4 separate regions of the Homo sapiens genome follow, and all the other regions are reported to be linked to region 1. The links are microRNA targets in miRTarBase. Many come from high-throughput screens and were not tested one by one. Region 1 holds a microRNA gene; each other region holds the end of a gene's coding sequence.

Region 1 (7,832 bases):
AGTTAGGGGTGGCTCAGATCAGGGTGATGACTGAGGCTAAGGAGAGTAGGGTACCCCCCATACTTGCCTAGGGTGCCGTGGCAGCAGCTTATAGGCCTGAATGGACATCCATGTGCTTTGGTGGCAGGGTCTCCTGGAGCCTCTGGATCCTCTTAGGCTGAACACACAGGTCCTTTCAGCCCTGTTATCCTAGAGTTGGAGGCAGCGGGGAGCCGTGTCCAGTTAGGTTTTCCCCCTTCACAGAAGGCAGGCAGGTTCTTGTTCAGTGCCAAGCAAGACCAGTTTGTTCTCAGCAAGCTCATGTTCTGTCTCTAGGCTGTTAAATACATTGTTAAAACTCAGGCTGTTGCATTTGGGTTGCAGCTGGGAGCTTGGCAGAGATTCTGCCTGATGAGGTAAGGAGAGAAGCTAAGGACGCTGCTGGTTTGCAGCTGGAAACATCTTTTCATGGCCATTTGGCCAGATTGTAAATGTCTTTTCCAAAGTTCAGGTTTGGTGGGACCTCTGGTTGTATGTCTTGGAATTGCCCTGTGTTTAGAAACAGTGCCAGTCGCCTGATGGGTGAATCACTGTTGCTGGGATGTTGGCAGGTTTTGCAGGACTTTCCTGTGGGGGTCCAAACACTAGGGCTGGCAGGGCCCGTTTGGAGTCTGTTTGAGAAGGGCCTGCTTTGTTTTCTTTACATTTTAAGCATATGATAAAATAATTTTAAAAATTGCTATAGAATTTCTTGTAGAAAGATTAGAGAAACAAGCATAAAAATAAAAAGAAATTATTTCACCAAGATATAGCCAGATGTATGACTCTTTTCTTGCATCTCTCTATATACACATATACATTAATTTTTCCTTACAAAAATGGAATTATAGAGTGCATATTATTGGGGCCCACTTTTCTCACTTAACAGTATGCTTAGATCTCTTCATGTTGATATATAGTATTCATTTTTAATATACTCCATAAAAACTCATTGTATAGAAGAAATGTAAAATCTTCTATTGTTGTAGTTTCCTAATTTGAACAAGTCTGTGGTGAAGTATTTTTTGTTGTGTTCCTGGTATGGGACAGACATTGTTCTAAACTCTGGGGATGCAGCACAGATAAAACTCAGTATTGGTTTTCTGCTCAAGATGTCACTTTGTTTTTCATAAAAGTGGGTTTGACATTGTTCACCTCCAGACTTATTCCAGTTGGATTCTGAGGGTTTCTGGGAGGGCTTTTAGCAGCACTGGACACTTTGTAGGGGCACTCAGCAGGTACACATACTTTCACCTACTCTGTCTTAAGCAAGCTGTGGGCATAGTTATGAGATGGGTTGGAGGTTGGCCTTTCCCACATTGTGGGGCACAGTCCCTCTCGGATGCTGCCTCCTCCCAATCTGACTCTAATTAGAGGACTTTTTGTACAGAGCCTTTTGAGTTAAGGGGCCCAGGCTTGGGAGAAATGGGGTAGGGCTCCAGAGTACCCCTGCCAGAGATGTCAGTGTTGATGTGGTAGTCTGGGAGCTGCTGCTTGGAGGTGCCCAGCTCTCCAGGCTAGCAGAGTTAGTTATCCCCTTCTCCCACCAGAGCAAGACTTTGCAGGCTCTTGGTAGGTAAGTCATCTGTAATTACCTGTGATTCTTTGAGGCTCTGCCCAAACCCCATCTGTGATTCTTTGAGGCTCTGCCCAAACCCTATCTGTGATTCTTTGAGGCTCTGCCTCCAGGCTGAGATTCAAGAATGGGCTCAGTCTAAGCCAGATCGCACATTCCAGAGAAATCACAGCTGGTATTCATGTAATGAAGAAACCTGGCTTTCCCTGAGTGTTGTGAGGTATGAACCGTAGATGATAGGAGCAGAATGATTTGAAAGGAATGGACAGACTTCCTCCCTGGAATTTATCTGGCCTCTAAAAAGGTATGCAACTGCAACTGGAGACACACCTGGGTAGAGATGCTGGGTTCCCCACTTCCAACCATGTCTGGTTTGGAACCTGCCTGGGCCCTGTTCTCCCACCACCCCAGCTCTGAGGAGCAGTCAGCTGGTCCCTTTCTGATCACAGATACATCCTCCCAGCTCTATGTTTTCACTGTCCCCTCCCTACATACATACAGAAGGTGCTGAGCCTGAGCCAGTCAAGCCTTTTGAGGAACAAGAAACAGACACCCAATCCCTTAGGTATAAGGGGCTTGTGTAAGCAAGAGAGAAGCCTTCTGAAATCCTGGGATAGAGAAGACAGTATAGTAAGGCCTTGGAGCAGACCTGTGGCTAGAACCAGGAGGGCCTGGACTCTGCCTCAGGGCAAGCCCAGGCTTACTCACTTTCTCTTGATGACTTGCTCTCTTCTGCTGCTCTAACTCCCTAATGGACCCCTTAGCACAATACGCCCTACCCTGCAGCAGGTTCCAGGTTGGAAGATAATTGTCCTGTGTGTCTTGGGACCCCCACACCTAGACTATGACAGGAAGACTGTCAGCTCTGCAGACATTTGGCATAGGCATGAACACATGGCGCCATTCACTTATGCTTTCCTTCTGATAGAGGATCCATTTGCAGATGGGAGTTGTGGTTGGCCTTCTCTGAGCCTAACCTGGAATCTCAATGGATTAGGATTTCTTCTGAAAGAGTAAGATGAGGAATGGTGGGTGTGCTGTGTGTCTAATCAAGTATGGCGGGCAAAAAACTGATGAACTGGCATTATCTTAGACTTAGAATTCTGTCAGATAAGGCTTATGTTTTTTTGGGAAAGCATTTGTATTTCCTTTGTTTTGCTTGCTTTGTCTTAGTGAATTTCCATTTGAGCACTCCAGTGGGGTGCTCAAAAGCAGGGCAGGAAGAAGACCGGCAGAGCTGGGGTACAGATGGGTGCTAATCCTCCAGCACAGTCTAGGCTGCATGGCTGAGCTGGGAGACGGTATCGGAGGCTTCTGTTGTGGACTGAGGTTTACTGCCAGTGGGGTTTGTCTCAGGTTGTGCCTATTTCTGGGCTGATGAGAAGACAGTAGCTGGCCCCTTTCCCATGTCAGCAGCCCAGCCTGAGGTTTTGGCCATGTGTGCCATATTCATTTTTGTATCCTGAGTGCCTAGATCAGTGCCTGGCATCTGCAGGTCTTCAGTAAATATTTGTGAATGAATGGTGACGGGCCAGTGAGAACAGTGTCTGCCAAGGAGCCTTACTACAGGAAGAACACTGTCTACCTAGGAGACTGTCTCCTCTGACTGCTCTTTCTCTGGCAGGTGCAGACTGACAAGGGTTAGTTTTATTCCTCTTCTGGCTGGCCATCTGTTGTACACCTTAGTTTGGGTGTTGGTACTCTGGAGGATATTGTGTCAAATTATCTTTCTGTTATTGTCTCTCATGTACTGTTGCCTCCTTGTGGGCAGGGACTGGTTCCCCAAAACCTGGCACTGTCCTGGCATATGTGTTGGAAGGTAAGATAGAAACAAACAGCAGTCTGTGAAATAAGAAGGAGTGGGCCAGAATCTTGGACTGACAGACCATTGGAACCCGAGCTGACTGTACCCCACTGCGATTCCGCCTTCTCATGGTACAGGTGGTTGCTGGGAGTTGAGAGGATGGGCTCTCTCCGCAGGGCACGTGACTTCCCAGAGCAGGGACCAGAATTGAGCACACATCACTGGCTGCACGCTCTTTGTTCTTTCTGCTGTTTGTCCTTTTTAGCTTCTGTGTGCTAGGCCAGGATTTTGATATGTTTGATTATCTGCATATGTGTGTACATGCCTATGTGTCTCCTCACCTAAATTAGTCTTTTTCACTTTGTTGATCCAGTGATTGTCATTGAATGCCTTTCAGACACTTCCCTCTGTGACCATGAAACTCTGGGTGTCTGCATTGCTGATGGCCTGGTTTGGTGTCCTGAGCTGTGTGCAGGCCGAATTCTTCACCTCTATTGGTACGTGCCAACAGGACTGTCGTCTCCCTGACACCTTGGCTCACATGCCACGGATGTCTCTGGCTGCAGCCTGTTCTCATTTAGAGTGGGATAGCCTTAACTACTGGTTTTGGCCAGTTCTGAGGAGAGTGGAACTGGCAGAGTTGCTGTTTTCCCCTATAAGATCCCAATGATCTGGATGTTCAGGGAGCCAGATGTCTGAATTGGGTCTTTCTTCCTGGGAAGTGCAGGCTGCACTTGGGCTCTCTGGTCTTTTTGACCACCTTGCCCATGGACCAGAGAGTGGTTCTGAGCAGCAAATCCTTTGTATCCTGAGGATCAAGCTTTTCCTATCCTTCCGACCTAAAGTTCAGAGCTTTTTATCCTGTGGTGAGCCCCCAGGATATCCATGCCCCAGTGTCATGACCAGCTATGTAACAGTCGGAGAATGAGATTTAGGGCTGCTTCTTGAGTGACATCCAGTGCACTTATCTCAAACATCCCCTTGGTGCCTCTGCCTCTTTCTTCCTGAAGTTGCGAGATAGAGCCCCATGAGTGCCTAGGCCCCCTTTAACTCCAAGTCCCCATAATCCTCAGAGAGCTGACATGTTCTTATCCCAGGGGACTTGCTTCTGTGCTGGTATTCTGTGCCCCAAGGAAGGAGGCTGGACATCCCTCATCTGTTTCTCACTGGTGTCTTTCTTCTCTCCCTTGCAGGGCACATGACTGACCTGATTTATGCAGAGAAAGAGCTGGTGCAGTCTCTGAAAGAGTACATCCTTGTGGAGGAAGCCAAGCTTTCCAAGATTAAGAGGTGTCCTAAGTCCCCAACCATCCTTAGTTGGCCTTCCTTCCCTTCTGCCCCTCAAGGAACAAGGAAGCCATCCAGGGTGCCTATAAGAGGAAACCTTTGAGAGGGTGATGTGGGGCTGGCCTGGTTACTTCATGCCAGTGCTTGAGAGGAGCTAAGTACATGGGCTAAGGAGTCACTGTTTATTTTCTATTTAAGACCTTTTCCCTTACATTGGGGGTCCCAGCTGTTATCTAGATTAAGGGGCTAGAAGTATCTGTGGGGAGTTACTGTATTCATTTTTCATTGCCTCTTGATGAAAAGGGCCCCAGAACCTGGCACCAGGGAATTCTCACTAGGAAAATTGTCACAGGTCAAGACCTATGTGGGTGGACGCATTAGTCTTCCTTTTCCTCTGGTTCCACAGCTGGGCCAACAAAATGGAAGCCTTGACTAGCAAGTCAGCTGCTGATGCTGAGGGCTACCTGGCTCACCCTGTGAATGCCTACAAACTGGTGAAGCGGCTAAACACAGACTGGCCTGCGCTGGAGGACCTTGTCCTGCAGGACTCAGCTGCAGGTGAGGGACGGTGAGCAGGTGCTTGAGTGAGCCCATATGTTTGTGTGCTCATGCCTGGGTTGTTGTGTCTGAGCCTGTCTTGGGTCTGGGTGTTGGTGGGCAAGTACATTGTGGAAACAGGACCCTGCTGGTCTCATGGCTCTCTCCCTTCTCTGTGGGGACCTGGAAGTTGGCTGGCCTTGGTTTTTAACATGTAATGATGTTCAGTTCTTTTTTTAGCGTCTTTTTTTTAGTGTCTGTCTTTTCTTATTTTTTGCTAATGACATTTTTCCAATTATACTTTAGTGATACATGTTTATAGAAAAGTCGGAAAACACAAAAACAAGAGAATTATAATTCTTAATCCAGTTGCCCAGTGGTGAGCATTATTAAAATTGTAGTTTTTCTACCTATGCATATACATTTAAAAAATGGAACTATACATACATACCAGGGCATGCAAACTCAGTTGCTTGGAGGGACAATGAATTTACAAGTGTCAAGTGGGCTGGATGGTGGGGCCAGGGCAAGTTGGGGAGCATAGGTCTGATCTAAATTCATTCCTATTCATATGTTTTACAAACAAAGCATATCTGTTGGTAGATTTGTGACAGAAGAAAAAATTCTGTGAATTTCTCAGCTTCTTTATATGCCATTCAATGTTCTTCTGCAACATGATTTTAATGGCTGGATGGTGATTACCTGTCAGATGGTGATAATCTGTCATACTGATAATACTGTCAAATGGGTCAAGTCATTGGATATGGGATTTTTTCTGAATTATCAGCACCTTTTTACATATTTCTTGGTGTATACTTCTGATTACTTTTTTAGGGTAAGTTCCTAGAAGTGATATTACCGATGAGAGTGTGAACTTTTTAAAAGCTTTAAACTATACTTGGTGCTTTTATTGTGATAATACTTTTTATGCCCTAATACTTTTCTGTCAATAAGAAGAGATGGTACGGTGGGCCTGGAGGTGGGCTCTCCTAACTCCTAGCCCTGGGTTTAGTCCCCTGGACTCACTGACTTTTTTTTTTTTTTTTTTTTTTTTTGAGACTGAGTCTCACTCTGTCACCAGGCTGGAGTGTAGTGGCGGGATCTCGGCTCACTGCAACCTCTGCCTCCGGGTTCAAGCAATTCTTCTGCCTCAGCCTCCTGACTAGCTGGGACTATAGGCACATGCCACCATGCCCAGCTAATTTTTTTTTGGTATTTTTAGTAGAGACAGGGTTTCACCATGTTGGCTAGGATGTTCTTGATCTCTTGACCTCGTGATCCACCCATCTCCACCTCCCAAAGTGCTGGGATTACAGGTGTGAGCCACCATGCCCGCTGCCTTTTTTTTTTTTTTTTTTTTTTTTTTTAAAGGGACAGGGTCTCACTATATTAGCCTAGACTGGAGTGCAGTGGCTATTCACAGGTGCGATTGTAGCACACTGCAACCTTGGACTCCTGGCCTCACGTGATCCTCCTGCCTCAGCCTCCTGAGTAGCTGGGACTATAGGCACAGTGCCATTGTACCCAGCTCTTCACTGCCTCTTTTCCCTGAGCTGTGAGTGCTGATTAACTTCAGACTAGCTGTCTCTCTGGCTGAGACATTTTAGCCCATGTGGCCAGACTGGGTTGGGCCTGGGGGCAGGGTGGCCTCTGGAGAGGGATTGGTGAGCTCAGCCAGGCTGGAGCTGTGCCCAGTGAGCTCACTGCCTCCAGAAACCACGGCTGCCTTTCCCAGACTCCCGCCTCTCCGCCTGGGCCTGCAGCTCGGGACAGGCTGTTCTGCCTGCACGGCAGGAGACTAAGCCTACCCAGATGACCTCCTCTCTCCAATCTTGTTCTCCACACCCTACACTCCCACCATCATCTGGTTCCTTTGGAAAACCTTATGATTACCTGGAAGGAGATAGGGCAGGCCCAGAGAATAATTGGTTGTTTTCATCTCTGACTTTGAGTTCTTGCCCCTGAAACGAGCAGGGCATGCTGACAGTGTGGCTTTTCCTGGCAGCATGTTCCCCTACTCCCACCCCACCAGATTCTAAACTCTTTAGAGTCCCTGACCATGTAGCTATGAAGACAAGGAAGGCAGGGTTACAGCTTCTTGGTCCCTGTCCCCAGTTATGGCTGAAGTGGATGTTTAGGTCTGAAGTCATAGGTGGCAGTGGATACAGCTACTCTTGGGAAGAGGTTGGGGAAGGAATGGCCTTGTTGTTCCCCTCTCACTTCTCAGCTTAGAGGCAGAATTGAAGGCCCTAAGTCAGCCTGGGAAGGCTTGGCTCCCACCTGGGATTGTAGGAGGTACACATCTTACTTTACAGCTAGGGCTTGGAGTCCCAGAAAAGCCTCCTTGGAGTACTTCTGTGGTCAAAAGCTCTCCCACGCTTCAGGCTGTGGTCTTGAGCACCATAACTGGAGAGCCCATGCCCTGAACTCATTGAAGGTCTGAGTGGTGGGAGTACAGAGGAGAACAGGCCCACCGTGGTCTCTTAGGGGACGGACCTTGCTGGGTTGGTGCAACCCCACCTTGGTCCTTGGCCTGTCTAGGTGGTCCTTCAGCTGTCAACCTAGGGGGAGGGGGATGACTTCCAGGACTTTCATCATCACCTTTCTGGA
Region 2 (3,000 bases), not on the chromosome of region 1:
CCTTCCAGGAGGGTGGCGCCATCGGGCCATCCAGCCCACACAGGTGCTCACTGACTGCTCCCCATCCCCTGCACCAGGCACTATGACATGCGGAGGAACGACGACATTATAAACTTCTTCAATGACTTCAGTGACCACCTGGCTGAGGAGGCCCTATGGGAACTGTCTCTGAAAATTAAACCCAGGAACATAACAAGGAGAAAAACAGACCGGGAAGAGAAGACCTAGGAGCAGACGCCGGGATCCAGGAGAATGCTCGAGGGGCGCAGAGGGCAGCTCCCAGACCGGAGAGGACCTTGGACCTGTTAGGCGCATGGCAGGAGTCCCGGCCTCGGAGCCATGAGGCTGGCCAGCCCTCAGCGGGGCCGGGCGGGAGCTGGAGCCTGCCAGCCGCTTCCTGCCTCCTTCCTCTGTGGGAGCAGACCCGTGGGCCTCAGGGCAGCCAGCAGGCAGGTCTTGTTGCCAATTTACAAACCGGTGGTTTTCTGGTTTGGTTTTGTTTTCTGCTTTTACTTCCATCTCTCCCCTCTTGACCTTCCACCCACTCCCCTCCAGGGAGAGAGCAGCAGAGACCTCATCAGCAGACCAAGGAAGTGGTGGGTGCTCCCCCTCCCTAAGCTCCAGGGTCCCTGAATCTTCTGAAATCTCAAATGAGTGGAGGCCTCCTGGGGTGGCCTGTCCTGCAGGGGCCCTGGAATGGGGGCAAGCAGCTGGGTGGGCAGAATGCAGAGTAGACTCGGGGGAGGATCCTTTCACTTTCCGCTTCCCCTTCTGATGCATGGAGGATGGTGTGAGCTTTTCAGCAGGCCCGGAAAGGTACGCAGGTGACGCCTTAGCAGCCCCGCAGCTGGTGCTCTGCCCCGCGGTACTGGCGCCATCAGGGCCTCCCTTGCCCGCCTGAGAGCAGCAGCAGTCTCTGTCATCCCGTCGCCCCTTACCCCCCACCCCAGGCCACTGGGCCCCTCCCACACCACCTGGGGAGCTGAGAAGAGGAGGCTGGAGTAAGGGAGGACTTGATCATCCAAGAAATACTTTTTATTGCTGGGAGTCTTCTGAACCTCACCAAACTGAGGCCAGAGCTGAGCTCCTGGGGGAGTTAATTCAGAGGGGAGAGGCCAGCACCTCCCTCCTCCATCGCTCGCTGTGTGCCTTAAACTCCATCTCATGTCCCTCCCCATCCCCTGGCTTTCCCTCCCTCCTTGCCCCATCCTGGGCCAGCCAGCAGGGCTCCTCCTCTGGCTCTTCAGACCTTTCAGCCAGTGCTGTCAGTGCCCCTGGGAGGGAAGGGCATCCCTGAGGCACCCGAATGGTCCCTCAGGGTGCAGGGAGGCAGAAGCCTGGCCACAGAGGAGCCTCCTAAGGCAGCAGCTGCAGCAAGCGCACCCTCTCCCCACTCTCCCCACGCCAGAGCGGCTTCCAGAGCAGATGCTGTTTCCATCCTCCTCGTCAAAACCATTCTCGCTGCTGAGCTTGACAATCTGGGCAAGGCTTGTGGGGCGCTTGACAAACAGAATCTGCCCTGTGCCGCCTGGTTCCGTGGCCTCCAGCATGAGCCTGCAGGCAGGGCGCTGCGGGAACCCAGTTGTGCTGCCCCAGCCCATGCCTCCGGGTCTGCTGTGCATGAATGAGTGCTCACTTGTCCCGGGTTTAGGACGTGGTCAAGTGAACAGCAGGGTCTAACTGTGCTTACTTAGCCCAGTTCAAACAGAACAAAGGAAAAATATAGAAAGCAACATCTGTTGATCATTTAGGTTTTTTTTTAAACCACCATGTCACTTTGAGTCCTTCATGGGTTTTTGAACAGCATTTATCAAGAAGAAAATGTGGGCTTTTTCCCCTCTCCCGTGTTTTGTTTGTCCTGTAGATAGAGGGAGGAAAGCCGTGCAGTGGCAGGCGGGACCCCCTCTGGTGGCGGGACCCCCTCTTGCGGTGGTCTTGCGGGGCCAGCCGGGACCTGTCACTTTATTATTTAAGGAGTGTGTGTGTAGAGTCGCTGGCTTATTAACAGTATTGTGTGTGGGTTGGGTTTTTAGTTTGTTCCTTCTTTTTGAAGTCCCTTCATTTCAATCCTTGACTCTCTCTCCCCTTCCCTTGCCCAGCTCTGTTGAATGCTGCTGTGCGCGTGTGAGGGCCGCTCTGCACACAGGGCCCTTGGGTTGTGTGAACTGAAATTCTCCCTGTATTTGTGAGACTCGCAGGAGTCCCCATCTGTAGCACAGGCAATGCCAGTGCCATGCTGCAGCCTCAGAAACCAGGCCTCTCACTCCAGCAGCAGGCAGAACCGTGTCTGTGGTCGGGTGCTGTCCACAGCTCTGTCTGCCTTGTTCTTGGGCTTGAGCTGGATAGAGGTGGGGTCTCTTCACCTTCCCTGAATTCAGAACAGACCCTGTGCCTGGCCCCAGTGTGCCCAGGCAATTCCCCAGGCCCTCACTGGGAGCCCTTGGTGTTCTGAGCAGCAGGGCCCAGGCAGCACATGAGCAGTGCCCAGGGGCTCCCTGCGTGAGGACGGCAAGGTGCGATGTATGTCTAACTTATTGATGGCAGGCAGCCCCCTGTGCCCCCTAAGCCTGGCCCTGGTTATTGCTGAGCTCTGTGCTCAGTGCTGCGGCCTGGCCGTGGCTCGTCTGTTCCTTTGGGGGGCCCGGGCGGGTTGTGGGAATCAGTCTTCACAGACAGACGTGAGCCAGGCGGAGGACTCGTTCCTTGCAGAGGTCAGTCCTCACCTGCAGGTGTCGGGGTGTGGGGGGGCAAGGAGGGGCAGGCACACACCATGTCTGACCTGAACCCGATTCTGGGGAGCATCTTCCCGCTCCGGCCCCACGACCTCCACAGGGTTACATTGTAATATATATGCCCCAGCTAACCTGTCTGATGGTGGCATCTTCCTGCAGACATTTCAAACATGTAACTTTTATATGAAAAAAAATAAACACAGATGAAAGCTGCCCAATGCCATGTCCGCGCCCAGCTGCATGTGTGCAACTACAGTGACAGCCCAGC
Region 3 (7,832 bases), not on the chromosome of region 1:
GATCTTTTCTTTACCTGAGTGTTGCCATGAAGCGTGTGGGGAATCTCAAGTCGATTTAAAAATTTTTACATTTCCGTCTCATGGCTTCCCACTTTGCCCCAGGGAAAGTTGGAGAGTACGGCTACCTGGGTCAACCCAACGCGGTGCGCACCAACTTCACTACCAAGCAGCTCACGGAACTGGAGAAGGAGTTCCACTTCAACAAGTACCTGACGCGCGCCCGCAGGGTGGAGATCGCTGCATCCCTGCAGCTCAACGAGACCCAAGTGAAGATCTGGTTCCAGAACCGCCGAATGAAGCAAAAGAAACGTGAGAAGGAGGGTCTCTTGCCCATCTCTCCGGCCACCCCGCCAGGAAACGACGAGAAGGCCGAGGAATCCTCAGAGAAGTCCAGCTCTTCGCCCTGCGTTCCTTCCCCGGGGTCTTCTACCTCAGACACTCTGACTACCTCCCACTGAGGCGGCTCCAGCCCCAGACAACAGCCCAGGCATCTCCTTGGGCTGGGACTTCTTACCCAAAGCACATGCTTAGCTTATCTTTCTTTCCATTTACAGTCTCTTTCTTCCTTTCTAATCCTATCTGGGGAGCTCCTGGCCAGGATAATATATTTGCAGATAATTCTGGACCAGAGACTTGGTGCGGGGTTAACACCTTCATCCAGATTGGGTGCCAGCATACATTTTCTGGTGGGCCTTAACATCCCTCCTGCTTTTAGGAGAATTCACAGAACCTACTGTTCCTTTCAGATGACCTTTTGGAAAATAGTTCCCTTTGCCAACAGAAACATGCCAGAAGGAATCTTCTCATCTTTTATCTAACTATATGTACAGCTCTCCCCTCCCTTGTCCTTGAAAGTAGGATATAGCGAAAGGCGAGTCCAGGAGCTCAGGAAGAAGAGATGCACTATATGTTTACACAATTAATTCATCCCTTAATTTAAGTCATTTTCATGTGTGTGAGTTTGCTGGTTGTAAATACTTTGTCCTAAGAGATTTATCTTTATACAGATTTTCTAGAAATGTTTAGGTTACTAAAACAGGGTGGGCAAACTCTCTAAACTGGTACAATTTTATAGGTGAAAGAAAAAATTCCCTCATTTAAACCCAATCAGATGCCTCAGAGGGTAGCCTTGATTTGTTCTTACAGTTAAGAAGCCCTGCAGAGCACAAACTTCAGAAACCCGGCTTCCTGTGCTAAGTCTTTCCCAATCTCTACCCCTTTCTTCTCGGGCCACCCTCTGTTTAAAATTTGTGCTGGGTTATTCAGAACCTAAAAGTATTATTCAAACCAATTTCTTCCTTCCACAGTTATCTTAGCTGGATATAATGTATTTTCAGCTCAATTGTTAATGTGATGGATGGCACAATGAATGTATATTTTGTGTTATTCGTGAATAGTCTTTTGCATGTCGCACAATGTTTGATGTCCCCAAAGTACCACACTGAGTTCTATCAGTTATCCTTTGTGAGCCTATGATATTCCCCATTTCCTGTACAATCATGAACAGCTCTGAGATCCTGGAGTGATATGATCCAGAGCAGAGTTTACGGGTCTTAGGATGTCTGTAATAAATAAATATACTCAAGTTTCAGGTATGCTTAAGCATCCGTGTATTTGGCTGGGCTACAATTTGTTAATTCCTATGAAGTTGGCACATTTCATGAGGGGAAAGGGAGAAGGGTGGTAAATATTTTCAAAGAGATGGGCCTTTTCTTGAATAAAAGTTAATAACAGCTCCTTTATTATAATCAAAGCTCATAATGGAAAAAAAGACTGATGAAGAAATTTATGAAGCAGATTTATTTTTGAAACAAACATGGATACTTCCTGGGTCAAGTGCTAACCTTTTCACCTCCAACTGGATGTTGACGTATATATAAACAGAACTCCCTTCAAAAGCCAAAACTGTCTTCAGTCAGTCTTTCCTCACATCAGTGAACCAAGAGCTAAGAGATTCACATTTAATTAGCTCCAGTATAAAGTTGTTGTGAGGATGGGGCCCTTATTCCACTCCTCTTCCTTCTTTTTGGATTGTCAGGCAGAGTTCTGATATATTCCACCCTTGAAATGGAGTGTTTTTAGTAAACCCTTGCATCCCTTCCCCCATTCTTCCTGTCAACATCCATCCCTTCCTGCGGCTCTTCACCCCTTCTTCCCCATCTCTGGGTTGCACATCTTATTCCCTTCAGACTCAGCTTTGATTTCATAGCCGTCATGGCTGTAAAGGATCCACAGTTCTAATTCCATGCCACATAACCCAGAAAAAAAAAGTCATTTTCTTCTCTGGGCTCCACAGGTACTTCCAGGTGAACTTGTGGAAGCTACCCTGAAGTCTTTCAATATCCAAGTTGTTTCTGACCAAGGTATGTATCTGCTCTCAAAAGAGGAAGCCAGCAAATGATAGAGTTCAAAGTGGCTCTCCTCCCAGGCCTCTTTATTGCTTTCCTTTACTTTCACACATTTTTGGAGGCATTTTATTTAGCCCAACAGTACAGCAGAAAATTTACAGCATTGAAAACAAACACAGACAGATGACTTCCTTCCTCCCCAAAGGGTGTTTTACAAAGGACGGGCTGGAGGAGAAAAACCCTACAAAAATTTGGAATTTGCAGGCCGTCTAGGGCACTTGTGAGAATTCCTGCACTTCCCTGTCAAAGAAGAGAAGGCTGAACTTTGCGGTGCAGTTGCTGCGGCCATATCAAGGGCACCGGGTGCCCTCCCCTCAGCTGCTGGGTTCTGAGGTTGCCTGTAAAAGACTCAAGTGGATGGAGAAGAACTTCAAAGACGGTCAACCCTTTCTTTCATTTCCTGCCTGGCCTTATACTGTATCTTTTGTTTATTAGTGTAGGGCCACACAGCAAAACAGATGGCTGGCTTCCAAATACTTTAATGTGTTAAAGTGTCATTTGCATGCCATTGACTCCATTTCAATATCTAAAAGCAGGGCGAGATCCACTGGAATCCCAGAGATTCCAGTCTTTAAGATGCTGGTTTTAATGTAGCAGCAAGAGAGAACAATAAATTATGGCTAACCATCTCTAGCTTTCTCTAGGTCATGGAATAAATCAGTTAACAAGCAATGCATTTAGGAAACATTAATACACCTTTCAACAAGGAAAACATTTGTATCTTTTTAGCTGTCTCAATCGATTAAATCAAAGGCGCTTAACACATCCTATTTCAAGGTCTCTCTGCTTTGGTCTCTAAGGAGCACAGTTAGCTACTTGAAAAATGACAGCAATGGTAACTGAAACAACACAGAGTGGGAAAACTGAAAATAACATTTTATTGATACATTTACAAAGGAAACAAGGGTCTCAGTTAGGCACCTGGGATAACTGCGATACAAAATTCTAGTTTTCCAATGTTTTTTTCCTCACTTCCTCTACATTTATCCACAGTACTCCCCAAATACAGAGTGTTCCCAAACTAGGCTGAGTTGAGGTCTTGCTTTGGCTCTGAAGTCTGCTCTGGGTTTCACCTTTTAAAGTTTACTTTTGGAGGCTATTCAAATGCGGTGGTGTTTTCCTCTGGGGCAATCAGATTCAAACCGATCAATATTTACTCAGTCTGAAAGGGTTGTTGAAAAGGCTGCTAACAACAAACTGCTTAGCTGCTCACCCCTGTTTAATCTCAGGTTCACCGAAAGTTCAAGAAGAGATGAATGCAGTGATGGGTCACTTTAGAATGAGTCCCAGCAGTTTATCTGAGCTCTCAACTAAAGGCAACAATTATAGTTCCATCCCTCTTTGGAAAAGGGGCAACTTTCCTATTATTCTTTTGCTAAACAATGTTTACTAGAAACTTAAAACACTTTCCTCTCCCCTCTTGGTTCTTTTCTTTTCTTCCTTTTTTTCTTTTTTGTTTTTTGTTTTTTGGAAGCTTCCAGCTGCCCTTCTCCTGCCCCCTCCTCTAGTTTTCTGCCAATCCATTCAGTTTCATTTGACTTTAAATAAATCACATCAAATATTGTTAAAATGTTAAATTAGTCTGACAGAAGATATCTGATTTATTTCAGATGCCACAAGCTATGAAATGAAGCTCTTTGGGCCATTAGAGTTTATCTTTGTGAAAGTACAGGGCAAGATTGAATTGAAATCCATTTGTGTTTGAGTAATATTGACAATCAGAGCCCCAATATCCATCTGAGATGGCTGTTGAGTGGGAAAGGGGGGAGGGAGAATTGGCTTGCGCAGAAGCAAATACCTCAGGTGGAAAGTCAACTTTTAAATTTTACGCCTTCTTAATGCATGAAGTATTGAGAGATGAAAAAGGAAGACACAAGGAAGCCAGTGGGGAATGGTGAGTAGAAGATGCTAGACACTGAAGCTAATTGCTACAGCTCTTCAGAGGTCAAAGTTCATGTAATCACTGCATAAATGCATACTAAATAGGGATTTATTAAGCTTTCCTGATGGCTGAGCACGTCTGTGAAAAATGGTCACTGCTGTTTGTGTTTCCTCCTTAAGAATAATCATTCTTAAAGCAGAAGCTCTAGGCATTTCAGGCTTTAATTTATTTTGAGAGACAGGCAACTCCTGTGCTTAAAAATACTGAAATTAGTGCATGAACAACATCTTTCTTTATATTGGATGGGGCTGTAAAAGAAACGCTATGGCTTTTTCAGTACATACAAGAACACCCTTTAGTTAGCATGCCACTATTGGGATAAGCTAGTCACTGGTCAACTTTGGTGACCCTCTGCCTTAGATAAGTCCCCTTTGTGCCTGCATTTGTGAGAACACACAAAAATTCTGCCTTAGGACTCCTTGTGCCTAAATGACCAGAATTGAATGGGACCCACATCCCTAATCTCTCACTCTATGGATCAGAAAAAGGCACCCAGAGGTGGATTGGTTTGACTGAGAGCACAGTCAGTATCCATACTCTTACTTCCTAAATAAAAAAACAGGGCAGCTTAGAACCTGAGTCCAGTGCACTTTTAAATTCTAAAGTCCTGATTCAATTTTGTCCCTCCCTGATTTATTCCATGTAATTTGTTTCAGACTAGATATGATTTATTTTTCCATTTCTGCTTTACTGGCCACCCACTCAGTCAAGTCCTTGACTTTGAGGCCATTAGGAATACCGAATCTTTGAAACAACCTCTGAGTTGAATGCTTCTGCCATCTTGTTTGAATAATAAAATGTGCTACTTACCTTTAAATACATATGTTCTTAAAATATAAAAATAAAAATCTGGAGGGCAAGTAAAATTCAACACACACACATATATTTCTGTTTTGTTTTTAAACTTGGATGGGAAAGAATAAATGAAAGAGGAGTTGCCTACACACAAATTCGACCTCCATTAAATTGTCAAGAAGTATCATCTAGAAGGGGCTTCAAGATGCAAGGGACATTCCAGGAGGGGTTCTAACTCTGAACCTTTTAAAAATGTGTTTGCTTTTTCTGGCTAGTTTGTGGCGCAGCATACCTTCTAAATTGTTCTGACTCACATATCTTAATTTTTTCCAAGACTCACTCATGTACCTAACACACACACACACACCCAAGCCCAAACTATTAACATAAAGTCTCCTTGCAATACAACTTTCCACATTCTCCTCCATCTCATCCCCATGGGGTCCTACTGATCTCAGCAGAACCTGATGCCCAAAGGGACATCAATGGTTGTCAGTGTTTGAAGAGGTGAGCTGGAATCCTCAGCGTTTTAGTGCCTTATTTTTAATAGCACCAGCCATCAAATACAGCTAGCTGACCTTTGATAGCAGAACTACAAACAAAATATCAATTAAACAAGTATGTTCAGTAGGCGCTAGCCTCTAAACACCTTTTTTTTTTTTCCTTAGGCAACTCTAAACCCTCATCATATCCTGCAAAACATCCTTAAATGACTGCATTTTGAGTTTACTGGAAAAAATGAAAAGACCAATGTCTCTTTTTGCAACATGTTCAAACACAACTAAAACACGTGTCTCTATTTTTAATCAGCCCATTACATTTTACTCTTGTATTAAAAACCTGTTGGTAAAACGTCTAATCACAAGGTTAATCTATAGAAATCAGATTTTTTATATTTTCATTTAGGCTTGTGTGGTTAATCGGTTGGGAAAAAATACACAAATGCTTGCAACAGAAAATAAAAGAAAAATTATTGAGCGACTTTTCTTTTCAAACTGGGACACGTTTTAGCCGCGTTGGACAATTTTACGATTTACGACCCACTTCGTTCTAAGTCGCCACAGAACCGTAACAAGAATGCAGAAAGCCACGATTTAAAATGGTAACCCCAACCCCCGAAATATCAGCAACACGGTTCTGGCAAAGTATGCACGGGAATTTTCCCATTCTGAGGAACAGATGGGGTCTTTCCTTTAGGATGCGCAGGGGTCAGCTGTCCAAGGCTTGGGAAGAGGTCGGCTCGGGCGATCGAGTCGCTCGGGCAGCGGCGGCCGCGGGAACTCCGGCTCTGCTGGGGCTGCGGGGAGCGGGCGGGGGGCACCAGCGCCTGCCCCCGGCCGGCTAGGCTGCGGCAACTGCGAGAGGAGATGCCGCAGGACCTTCGCGACCCTGCGGGGTTGTAGAGGAGCCCCGACGCCGAGGTCAGGACGGCTTTCCTTCCTTGGCTTCCCAGCCTTCACCCTCTGAGTTCTTGACCCAACGTCGCCGTTCCGTTTCTCCTGCTTCCTGGGCCCCAGGCAGAGCACGAAGGGAGCAGCATCCGGGCTCTTCCCTGGCCTGCAGGCTTCGCGCCTCTGGATGGACCTGCGCCGGTCCGGGGCGGGAAAGGAGCAGCATCCGGGCTCTTCCCTGGTTCGCGCTCAGAGCCCATCTTGGGCCTGAGCGTTTCCCGGCCCGCGTCGGTGGGTGGTTTCGGAGGGAAGGGAAAGTGAGTCCGGACAGGTCCCCGAGGCTGCGAAGAGCTCCGCTTTGTCTCGGGGGACAATGAGGCCTCGCGTTTCTTTCTGCCAGCGTCGCCCAGCTTCGAGGGCTCCTGAGGCGCGGTCTGAGCTGCCCCGGGCCGCCACCTGACTCTCCCGAAGAGGGCTTCGGGACCCAACACTTCCTCAGAGAAGGAAACCCAGGTCAGAGGCCTCGCCCCTCGTCTGTCTCTAAGATTTGAAAGGGGAAAGGAGATTTGATTCCCTGTCCGCCCCATGCCCCAGATATCTTCAGAATGTACTTAATTAAGTAACATATTCATTCTCCTCCTAGTTCAATTGAGTTGTTTTCAACAGTAGCGGTGCGGGTTTCTGAATATTGGATGTTCAGGGACGCATCCTTGCCTTTCCTCTCAGATCAGATGCCTTCTGCTACTCCAATTGCTGAGTCGAATGCCTTAACACCTTGCCTCGTCTCACTTCTTTCTAGAAAGTTTCCAAGTACTGCTTCCTACTCTTTCGGCTTCCCCCTCCTAACAATAGCACTTTTTTTTTTCTTTTGAGACGGAGTCTAGGTCTGTCGCCCAGGCTGGAGTGCAGTGGCGCGTTCTCGGCTCACTGCAACCTCTGCCTCCCGGGTTCTAGCGATTCTCCTGCCTCAGCCTCCCGAGTAGCTGGGATTACATGCACCTGCCACCACGCCTGGCTAATTTTTGTATTTTTAGTAGAGACGGGGTTCCACCATATTGGCCAGGCTGGTCTCAAACTCCTGACCTCAAGTGATCCGCCTGCCTTGGCCTCCCAAAGTGCTGGGATTACAGGCATGAGCCACTGCACCCAGCCTCCCGCCCCCCGCCAGCTTTTTTTTTAAACTTGCATAAGTGAACAAGGACTTGGGATAATTATCGACATTAGAAATTACTGACATTGGCCGGGCGCGGTGGTTCACACTTCTAATCCCAGCACTTTGGGAGGCCGAGGCGGGCA
Region 4 (7,832 bases), not on the chromosome of region 1:
AGTACAGACGGGATTTCACCATGTTGGTCAGGCTAGTCTCGAACTCCTGACCTCAGGTGATCCATATGCCTTGGCATCCCAAAGTGCTGGGATTACAGGTGTGAGCCACCATTCCTGCCTCAATCTGTTTGATCAGCTGAGAGTATCCCCCCTGCTCAGATGAGGCAGGCAGGACTCCTGGGGCGGGGTGGGGCGTGTTGAGCCGTAGTCTTCTCGAAGGACCTAGGGTCACCCAGTGGTTTTGAAGGCGCAATTGGTAGATAAGAGGAATGGGGTCCCATGGGAGCCTAGTGAGGAGTCAGCTCAGAAATTACAGCAACAGGAAAAATGCCTAAGGGCAGGAACTAAATAACAGAAGACATGAGTGTTTATAACAAAGTACAGAAGAGACAGAAAAGGTAGAAAAAGAATAAAGAGAGAGCAGAGAGGGACAAGAAGTTTACAAAGTGCCGAGGCGGATTAGGACAGCTTGGGGAGGCAGGAAACGGGCCTTGTGGTTGGGGGGTGGGCCGTGTGGCCACAGTTGTTAATCTCAGCCTGAAAGACTTTGTTCCTGCACCTTCTCTAGTCATGCTGGGGCAGATACAGGGTTGGCTTTTCTCTGTGCAGTAACTGAGACTGGGCCTTCCTCCCTGTGATTCTGAGGGAGGAACAGCAGTGCCCTGGCAGGAGTGCTGTAACCAATTCCGTACACGTCCTGTCCTCTTCTCAGGTTGAATGTCTCCATTGAATGTAAGCGAGTGTCTGGACTGGAGCCAGCCACCGTGGATTGGGCCTTCGACCTGACCAAAACGAATATGCAAACCATGTAAGCTTGTCCCAACCAGGGGAGCCTAGTTCCTCTCGCAGCTTTCCCGTCTGACTGCTCCCAAATTCCCCAGGTATGAGCAGAGCGAGTGGGGCTGGAAGGACCGAGAGAAACGGGAGGAAATGACAGATGACCGAGCCTGGTACCTCATCGCGTGGGAAAACAGCTCCGTCCCTGTTGCCTTTTCTCACTTCCGGTTTGACGTGGAGTGTGGGGATGAAGTCCTGTACTGGTAGGAGCCATGGCTTGGGGGAGGTAGGGGAGAGAGACCCTGGCGATGTTCCAGGCACTCCAGCCAGGTGACAAAGCCCCTGGACCTACCTAGGTCTATGAGCTGCCAAGGACTGCAAGCTCCTCTGCCAGACCTTACAGCCTCTTCATGTCCCATCCTGCACGCTCACCTCTCTGCTTTCTTCACCTAGCTATGAAGTGCAGTTGGAAAGCAAGGTGCGGCGGAAAGGCCTGGGGAAGTTCCTCATACAGATCCTGCAGCTCATGGCCAACAGGTAAGGCCTCCCTTCTTAGGAGGCCCATATAGCACTCAGTTGGAAGGAGCTGTCACTGAGGCACTTGCCATTCTTTGAGCCTTGTTGGAGGAGGAGGCTCATAGGCATGTTTTGGGAGAAAGGTGTCTTAGAACCCTCTCAGTAAGATGCTCCCTGCCTTATTATGACTCCAGATTTTGTTTGTTTAGCTCAGTGCAGTGAACATCTTTTTTTTTTTTTTTTTTTTGAGACAGAGTTTCACTCTTGTTGCCCGGGCTGGAGTGCAATGGTGCCATCTTGGCTCACTGCAGCCTCCACGTACCGGGTTTAAGCAATTCTTCTGCTCAGCCTCCCAAGTGGCTGGGATTACAGGCGCGCACTGCCATGCCTGGCTAATTTTTGTATTTTTAGTAGAGACGGGGTTTCTCCATGTTAAGGCTGGTCTCGAACTCCTGACCTCAGGTGATCTACCTACCTCAGCCTCCCAAAGTGCTGGGATTACAGGCATGAGCCACCACACCTGGCCAGTGAGCATCTTTTGAGTTTCTAATCTCTGCCACCTTCTGTACCGAAGTAATGGTGCTACAGAGAGGAAGTGGGAAACATCCTTGCTCTGGAAGAAGCCAGTCTGGTCAGGGCCGATGCCTGTGCAGTCTGATCAGCCTGTGATGGGGGAAGCAGTGAGTGCTGTGTGGGGGTCCAAGACCTCCAGAGGCTAGAGGCCAAATTCAGGAACACTCGTGTGGGTGAAAGGGAGGTAACAGACAAAGGCAGAAAGGAAAGGAAGCATGACCTTAGTCTCTGTGTCTTTTCTTTTTTGAGACAGGGTCTCACCCTGTCACCCAGGCTGGAGTGCAGTGGTGTGATCGTATCTCACTGCAGCCTCTACCTCCCAGGCTCAAGTGATCCTCTAGCCTCAGCCTCTGGAGTAGCTGGGACTAAAGGCACATGCCACTATACTGGGCTGATTTTTTTAAATTTTTAAATGTTTTGTAGAAATGGGGTCCCACTATGTTTTCCAGGCTGGTCTCTAACTCCTGGGCTCAAATGATCCTCCCACCTTTGCCCCTCAAAGTGCTGGGATTACAGGTGCATGCCACCATGCCTGGCCATGTTTCTCTTTCTAAAAGGCGTTTGCTCTGCTTTCTTCCAGCACACAGATGAAGAAGGTTATGTTAACAGTATTTAAACACAATCATGGTGCCTACCAGTTCTTCAGAGAAGCGTTGCAGTAAGGAGCTGGGTGTGGGCCCTTCTGGGTGGTAGGTGGGCCTGCCCAGGGCCATTTTTCTGGTCCTGGCCCTCACTCATTCTGATGCCTGAGCTCATGGTCCAGTGGTCCATGGGGGTTCAGGTTCAGGGAGATGGTATGGCAGTGCTCTCTGATTTGGTCCACTGTCCACCTCCTGCACCCTCATCCTAAGGGTCTCATCAGTGTGGCTGGTAGAAGAGTTCTCGGGCCAGGGAGGAAGGCACTCAGCTGCCTGCCACCAACCCTTTTCTCCTGCCTGCCTTGCAGATTTGAAATTGATGACTCTTCCCCCAGCATGTCCGGTTGCTGTGGGGAGGATTGCTCCTATGAGATCCTGAGCCGGAGGACCAAGTTTGGGGACAGCCATCACTCCCACGCGGGTGGGCACTGTGGTGGCTGCTGCCACTGAACTCTCAGAGCCACTTTCAAGTCACAATGCTCTCTCCTAAGGCCTTTCCTCTTTCCTGGTCTCACTGTTCACCGGGTGTCCTCAGAGCTGTGGCCTCCCCAGCCCTGCACGTGCCAGGCTGCGCCCTGAGAGCACAGAACCCTGGGGAGAAGTGGTATCAGCTGCTCCTCCTCTCCTAGGAGACCAGAGTGCTAGAAGGGAATGAAAGGGAGAGGGAAGAGTAGGTGGGGCCGGGCAGTGAAGCTCATCCTCCACAGTGGCTGCCTCCTCATTTGGCTCCTGGGGCCTGCAGTGGAGGTTCTCGCACCTCTGCAGCCCCTAGATTCCTGGCAACCTCCCCTCCCCTGACACATACACACTTGGACAAATGGAATGTTTATGTCCACCTTTATGAAAGTTCTGGAGTCCTGGGTCTGGGGTTTGCTGGTCCCCAAAGAGGAACACACTGGGTGTAAGATCTGGGTGTAGAGGGCGGCTTCAGAGAGACTCACGCTTGCGCAGTTGGAATTGCTGTTAACGGAGACTGGGAAGATCTTTTGTGCCAAGATGCAGGGAAATGAAGAAAGCTCTTTCCAGCTGTTTTTATGGATTCATGGAGTGGGCTCATGTTGGGACCAGCTGACTCTGGGAGGAAGACTGCCTCTCCATCGCTGTCAGAGAGCCTGAAAGGACCAACAATGAGGTGTTCTTGGGACCCGCCATGGGGATGATTGCTTCTCTAGGCTCCTGGATGTTGCTGCATTCTAAGCTTAACCTCCTGGTCTCATGGCAGTGACTTGAGCTTTTGATTCATAGAAGAAAGCCAGAGGTTCTGCTTGTTCTTGTCTGCCAGCCCTCGTCGTTCTTTCTCCTCTGCCTCTCACCTCTACCCCAAATACCTCTGTTCTTAGTCTCAAGGGGAGAATAACATCAGGGAGCCCCTCATCTTCCCCAGAAGGACTTCTCGTTCCTCATGTAGTTAACTCCATTGATTTTCCTATCTTGGTGCTGATAGCTCTCTAAGGGTAGGGCACACCTCCCCACAGCCACCCTCCCTCTTCAGAGAGCCCCCAGCCAGCAGCAGGCCCCTCTGCCTGCACTCCTCAGGCTTGCCCCTCGCTGCCTCAGTGAGGCACTAGTGCCACTGCCGTGGCCCAGCCGGGCCATAGCTCAGGCTGCAGCAGAAATGCCTCTCAGTGGCCAACAGTTGCTTTTCTCTCTGGTGTCACCCTGTGGCAACAGGCTGGAGCAGGGGAAGGAGAAAGCCTTCCTCTTCTCTCATAGGATAGAAAGGCAGGCTCAGAACTAATGCTCATCCTGATCTCTAGGCCTTGTTCCTCTTCCAGGGAAGAAAAGCCAAATCCTTATCAAGGAAAAAGCACCTAACAGCTCCCTTTGGATATCCCTGAGCTCTGCTGTGGGGAGTATCATAAAGGTTCTAGCCTTCGTGAAGTTGTTCTCGTGGAGGTCTGTTGGTCCCTCTGACCTCAGCATCTGCTCACATCCCACCCTCTGCCCAACTCTGGCAGTCTCTCCTGGCAGATCTCCCCAGAGTGGTCCTTGCTTCTCACCTGGATTCCTGCTTGTGCAGGAGCCTGTGTACACAGGGCCTCCCTCACCCAGCCTGGCCCCTCTGCTGAGCACTTTGCGCTGCTCTTGATGGGCAGCAGTGGGACTGGGAACTCCTTAGAGAGGGCCTTGCAGCTTTACACTGGAATAAGTCTGCCTCTGCCTCTGCCTCACCCTGCTGGCTCCTGGTGGGTTTCATCCCAGGCAGAGTTGACATTGCTGGAGGGGTTTGGTGGACTCCTAAGAATCATGAAACCACAGGAGCATGTTTAGGAAGAGATTTGTCTCTGGTCCCTGTCTCTGAAAGGACACAGATGCTAAATATTTATTGTCTTAGATCATGGATTCCTGATACCTCTCACTCAAGGGGACCAAAAGGGACCCCCCCGTGTTCATCCCTTGTAAGGTGAGTTCAGTCTACGTTGTCTCTTTCCAGTCACTGGATACGTGGCACCAACTGGTCAATGGGTGCTTGGTGCCATACCCTGCTCACCCTAGTCTCTGCAGGCCATGTCCTGAAGGGTTCCTCAGGAGGTCGGGACTAGGGTGGGAGAGGCACTATCTGAGACCTGCAATCACTCTTGTTGGTCTTGAGCCCATTCATTTCCAAAACATCCATCTTTCTCCACTTCCCCCAGGTCTTGGTTTTGAGAAACAGCAGGCATGGCTGAGTGCGGTGGCTTACACCTGTAATCCCAGCACTTTGGGAGGCTGAGGCAGGCGGGTCACCTGAGGTCAGGAGTTCAAGACCAGCCTGGTCAACATGGCAAAAGCCCATCTCTACTAAAAAATACAAAAATCAGCCAGGCGTGGTTGTGGCCTGTAATCCCAGCTACTCGGGAGGCTGAGGCAGGAGACTCGCTTGAACCCAGGAGGTGGAGGTTGTGGTGAGCTGAGATCACGCCATTGCACTCCAGCCTAGGCGACAGAGTGAGACTCCATCTCAAAAAAAAAAAAAAGAGAAACATAGCAGGCCTTTTTTACCAGGCTTTTTGTGTTTTGTTTGTTTGTTTGGAGCATGTTAAGATTTTTTTAAGATTTTTAAAATTTTAGTTATATCCACCCTATTTCAGGTTATTTTTGTTGGTGTCAAGTATGTATAGGACATGTGAATGGTTCTTTTTAATTTTTTTTTAAGAGGAAATTTGGAAGATAAACTCCTTGATATATATATATATATATATATTTTTTTTTTTCTTTAGCAGCTTGTTATCACTGGAATCAAAGGGAAAAAGTGATCTCTTCTTGCATTGGTTGTATTTGTATGTCACAAATAAAAGACACTTTGGTCAGCTGCTGAGATGGCTTCCTGATGCTGGGGCACCATGGGCAGCGTGGATCTGGGAAGCTCTGGACCCTGAGCCTGTCCCAACATTGGGCCCGAACATCAGGAGGTGCATAGCTATGATAGCCCCATGCTGGAGAAAAAACTCAGGCTGTCCGGGGCAAGCAGCCAGAGCTGGGAACAGAGACCAAATGTATGTGTTTGTGCCACTTCCCAGGAGTTCTGAGTAGAGGCCAAAGGTGTTCTGAAGGGCGCCTGCTTTGCATCTTGGAGAGAAAGTCCCAAGCCAGGCCTTGTGACATTTGAAATCTGTGTCCAAACGTAAATTCCAGTGCCCATGTGTGGGAGGTGAATAGACGAGAGTGCTTCTTTCCTCTTTGACTTCATTGGGTTACTCAAAATATTCTTTGTCTCTTAAGATTCCTGCCCTCTTCCATCCATTCACAGAAGACAAGGCTCCAAGGAAGGGGAGCTCATGTCAGGGCTGCTGGGGCAGGAGAGTTATGAGCTGGTGGAGGCTGTGACCCCCTAGTGTGACAGATGGAGCTGTGCAGGTTGTTCCCCAAGCAGGGCTCCTGCCAGCCCTGGCCCGGGGGAGCTGGAGCTCAGTACTTTCTGTGGACAGTGGAGGGGCTGCCCCATTGTACTCTGCTTGGTGGTCTGCATCTGCTGGAACGGGGAGCAGGAGACCCTGATCCACATGGAGTGTTCGTGCCCTGGCAGAGCAAGCATCTGGGGAAAGAGGAGCCAGGGTTATACCTGTTCCGTGGGTCCCAGCTGTGGCATGTTGTGGCCTCTCCCCTGTGGGCAGGGGCACACCCGCAGGTGGTTTGTGCAGCTGTCTTATCTTTGAGGCCCAAAGAAAGGCAGCACAGCCCTTGGGAAGGGAGAGCAATTTGCCTGGCGAATCACATGGCCAGTTTCCCATGTGACAGAATTCTGCCCCTCAAGTTATTTGTTCCTTGAAGGCTGTGTTTTCATCCCAGGCAGAAACTTCCTGGAATGGCCATCCCCTTGCTGAAGGGTGAATGGCCACAGTTGGAGAGCTTGGGGCCATTCCTTCATCCCTGCCGGCTGAGTGCAGGGAGAGTTGAGGTCTGCACCCATTCCTCCTCCTTCTCCACCTTCACAATGGCCTGGGCCCTCCACAGTGGCTGCTTCAGTGAGGTGTGGTGTGACTTCTGGGTCTGCCCCATGCTGCTGCCACAGCTTCAGTGGGCAGGCGGAGCAAGAGGCACCACCGCTGAGCAGTAGACAGTCCAGAGCCTGGGCTGGACTGAAAGGGACTATGTCCCCAGCGGGAGGGACGCCACTCACCAGATGGTTTCTGCCGCCAGCTTTGAAGGTAGTTCAAACTAGGGGGCAGGCTTTTCTAGTTTTGGCTAGAATACTCCCTCCCCAAGTGCAGCAGAGGTTGTTCTATACCCCTGAGGACAGACGGGGTCTGGGGAGAGGGGATGTGTTGCTGTGGAGCCTGGTGAACTAATGTGGTGGTGTTACTCCCAATCTAAGGATAAATTGCCAGCGCCATGGCTCACGCCTAGAGCCCCAGCACTTTGGGAAGCTGAGGTGGGAGGATTGCTTTAGGCCAGGAGTTTGAGACCAGGCTGGGCAACATAGTGAGACCCTGTCTCTAAAAAAATATATTTTTTGATTAGTTGGGCCTGGTGGCAGGCACCTATAATCCCAGCTACTTGAGAGTCTGAGGCGGGAGGATTGCCTGAGCCTAGGAGTCTGAGGCTGCAGTGAGCTATGATTGTGCCACTGCACTCCAGCCTGAGTGACAGAGCAAACAAGACCCTGTTCTTAAAAAAAAAAAAAAAAATTGCAGTCATTGTGTCTTACGCCTGTAATCTCAGCACTTTGGGAGGCCTAGGCAGGCAGATCACTTGAGGCCAGAAGTTCGAGACCAACCTGGGCAACATGGTGAAGCCCTGTCTCTACTAAAAATAAAAAAATTAGGCTGGGCGCGGTGGCTCACTCCTGTAATCCCAGCACTTTGGGAGGCCGAGGCGGGTGGATCACGAGGTCAGGAGATCGAGACC

Evidence for each region. The annotated mature microRNA hsa-miR-6830-5p reads CCAAGGAAGGAGGCUGGACAUC and lies in region 1 at 4,527-4,548, shown strand. An mRNA with a match to its seed (bases 2 to 7 or 8) in the 3' UTR can be bound and repressed. Matches are read on the target gene's strand: a 7mer-m8 pairs with bases 2 to 8, a 7mer-A1 pairs with bases 2 to 7 and ends in A, and an 8mer does both.
Region 2: the mRNA of RAPGEF1 is a reported target of hsa-miR-6830-5p. Seed matches in the 3' UTR shown: 7mer-A1 at 2,068-2,074 and 7mer-m8 at 2,700-2,706.
Region 3: miRTarBase lists HOXA1 as a target of hsa-miR-6830-5p. Seed matches in the 3' UTR shown: 7mer-A1 at 846-852.
Region 4: miRTarBase lists NAA40 as a target of hsa-miR-6830-5p. Seed matches in the 3' UTR shown: 7mer-A1 at 5,661-5,667.

The regions. Positions count from the first base shown.
Region 1 is chr5:132,214,608-132,222,439 of GRCh38, reverse strand. It overlaps MIR6830 (microRNA 6830), which reads left to right and starts at 4,522; the gene lies at 4,522-4,591. P4HA2 (prolyl 4-hydroxylase subunit alpha 2) reads left to right here. Exons shown (of 15, transcript NM_001017974.2): 2 at 3,796-3,895; 3 at 4,592-4,688; 4 at 5,092-5,243. The coding sequence starts at 3,814.
Region 2 is chr9:131,576,725-131,579,724 of GRCh38, reverse strand. RAPGEF1 (Rap guanine nucleotide exchange factor 1) reads left to right here. Exons shown (of 27, transcript NM_001377935.1): 27 at 78-2,950. The coding sequence ends at 228. Among named protein-coding and RNA genes, the nearest start is that of PRRT1B, 33 kb to the right of the region's middle. RefSeq lists enhancers at 297-376, 577-706, 737-786.
Region 3 is chr7:27,087,066-27,094,897 of GRCh38, reverse strand. HOXA1 (homeobox A1) reads left to right here. Exons shown (of 2, transcript NM_005522.5): 2 at 103-1,905. The coding sequence ends at 458. Among named protein-coding and RNA genes, the nearest start is that of HOXA1, 5.0 kb to the left of the region's middle. RefSeq lists enhancers at 1-310, 311-811, 2,400-3,310.
Region 4 is chr11:63,951,526-63,959,357 of GRCh38, forward strand. It overlaps NAA40 (N-alpha-acetyltransferase 40, NatD catalytic subunit), which reads left to right. Exons shown (of 8, transcript NM_024771.4): 4 at 713-808; 5 at 882-1,040; 6 at 1,231-1,314; 7 at 2,447-2,524; 8 at 2,813-5,794. The coding sequence ends at 2,954. Among named protein-coding and RNA genes, the nearest start is that of NAA40, 16 kb to the left of the region's middle.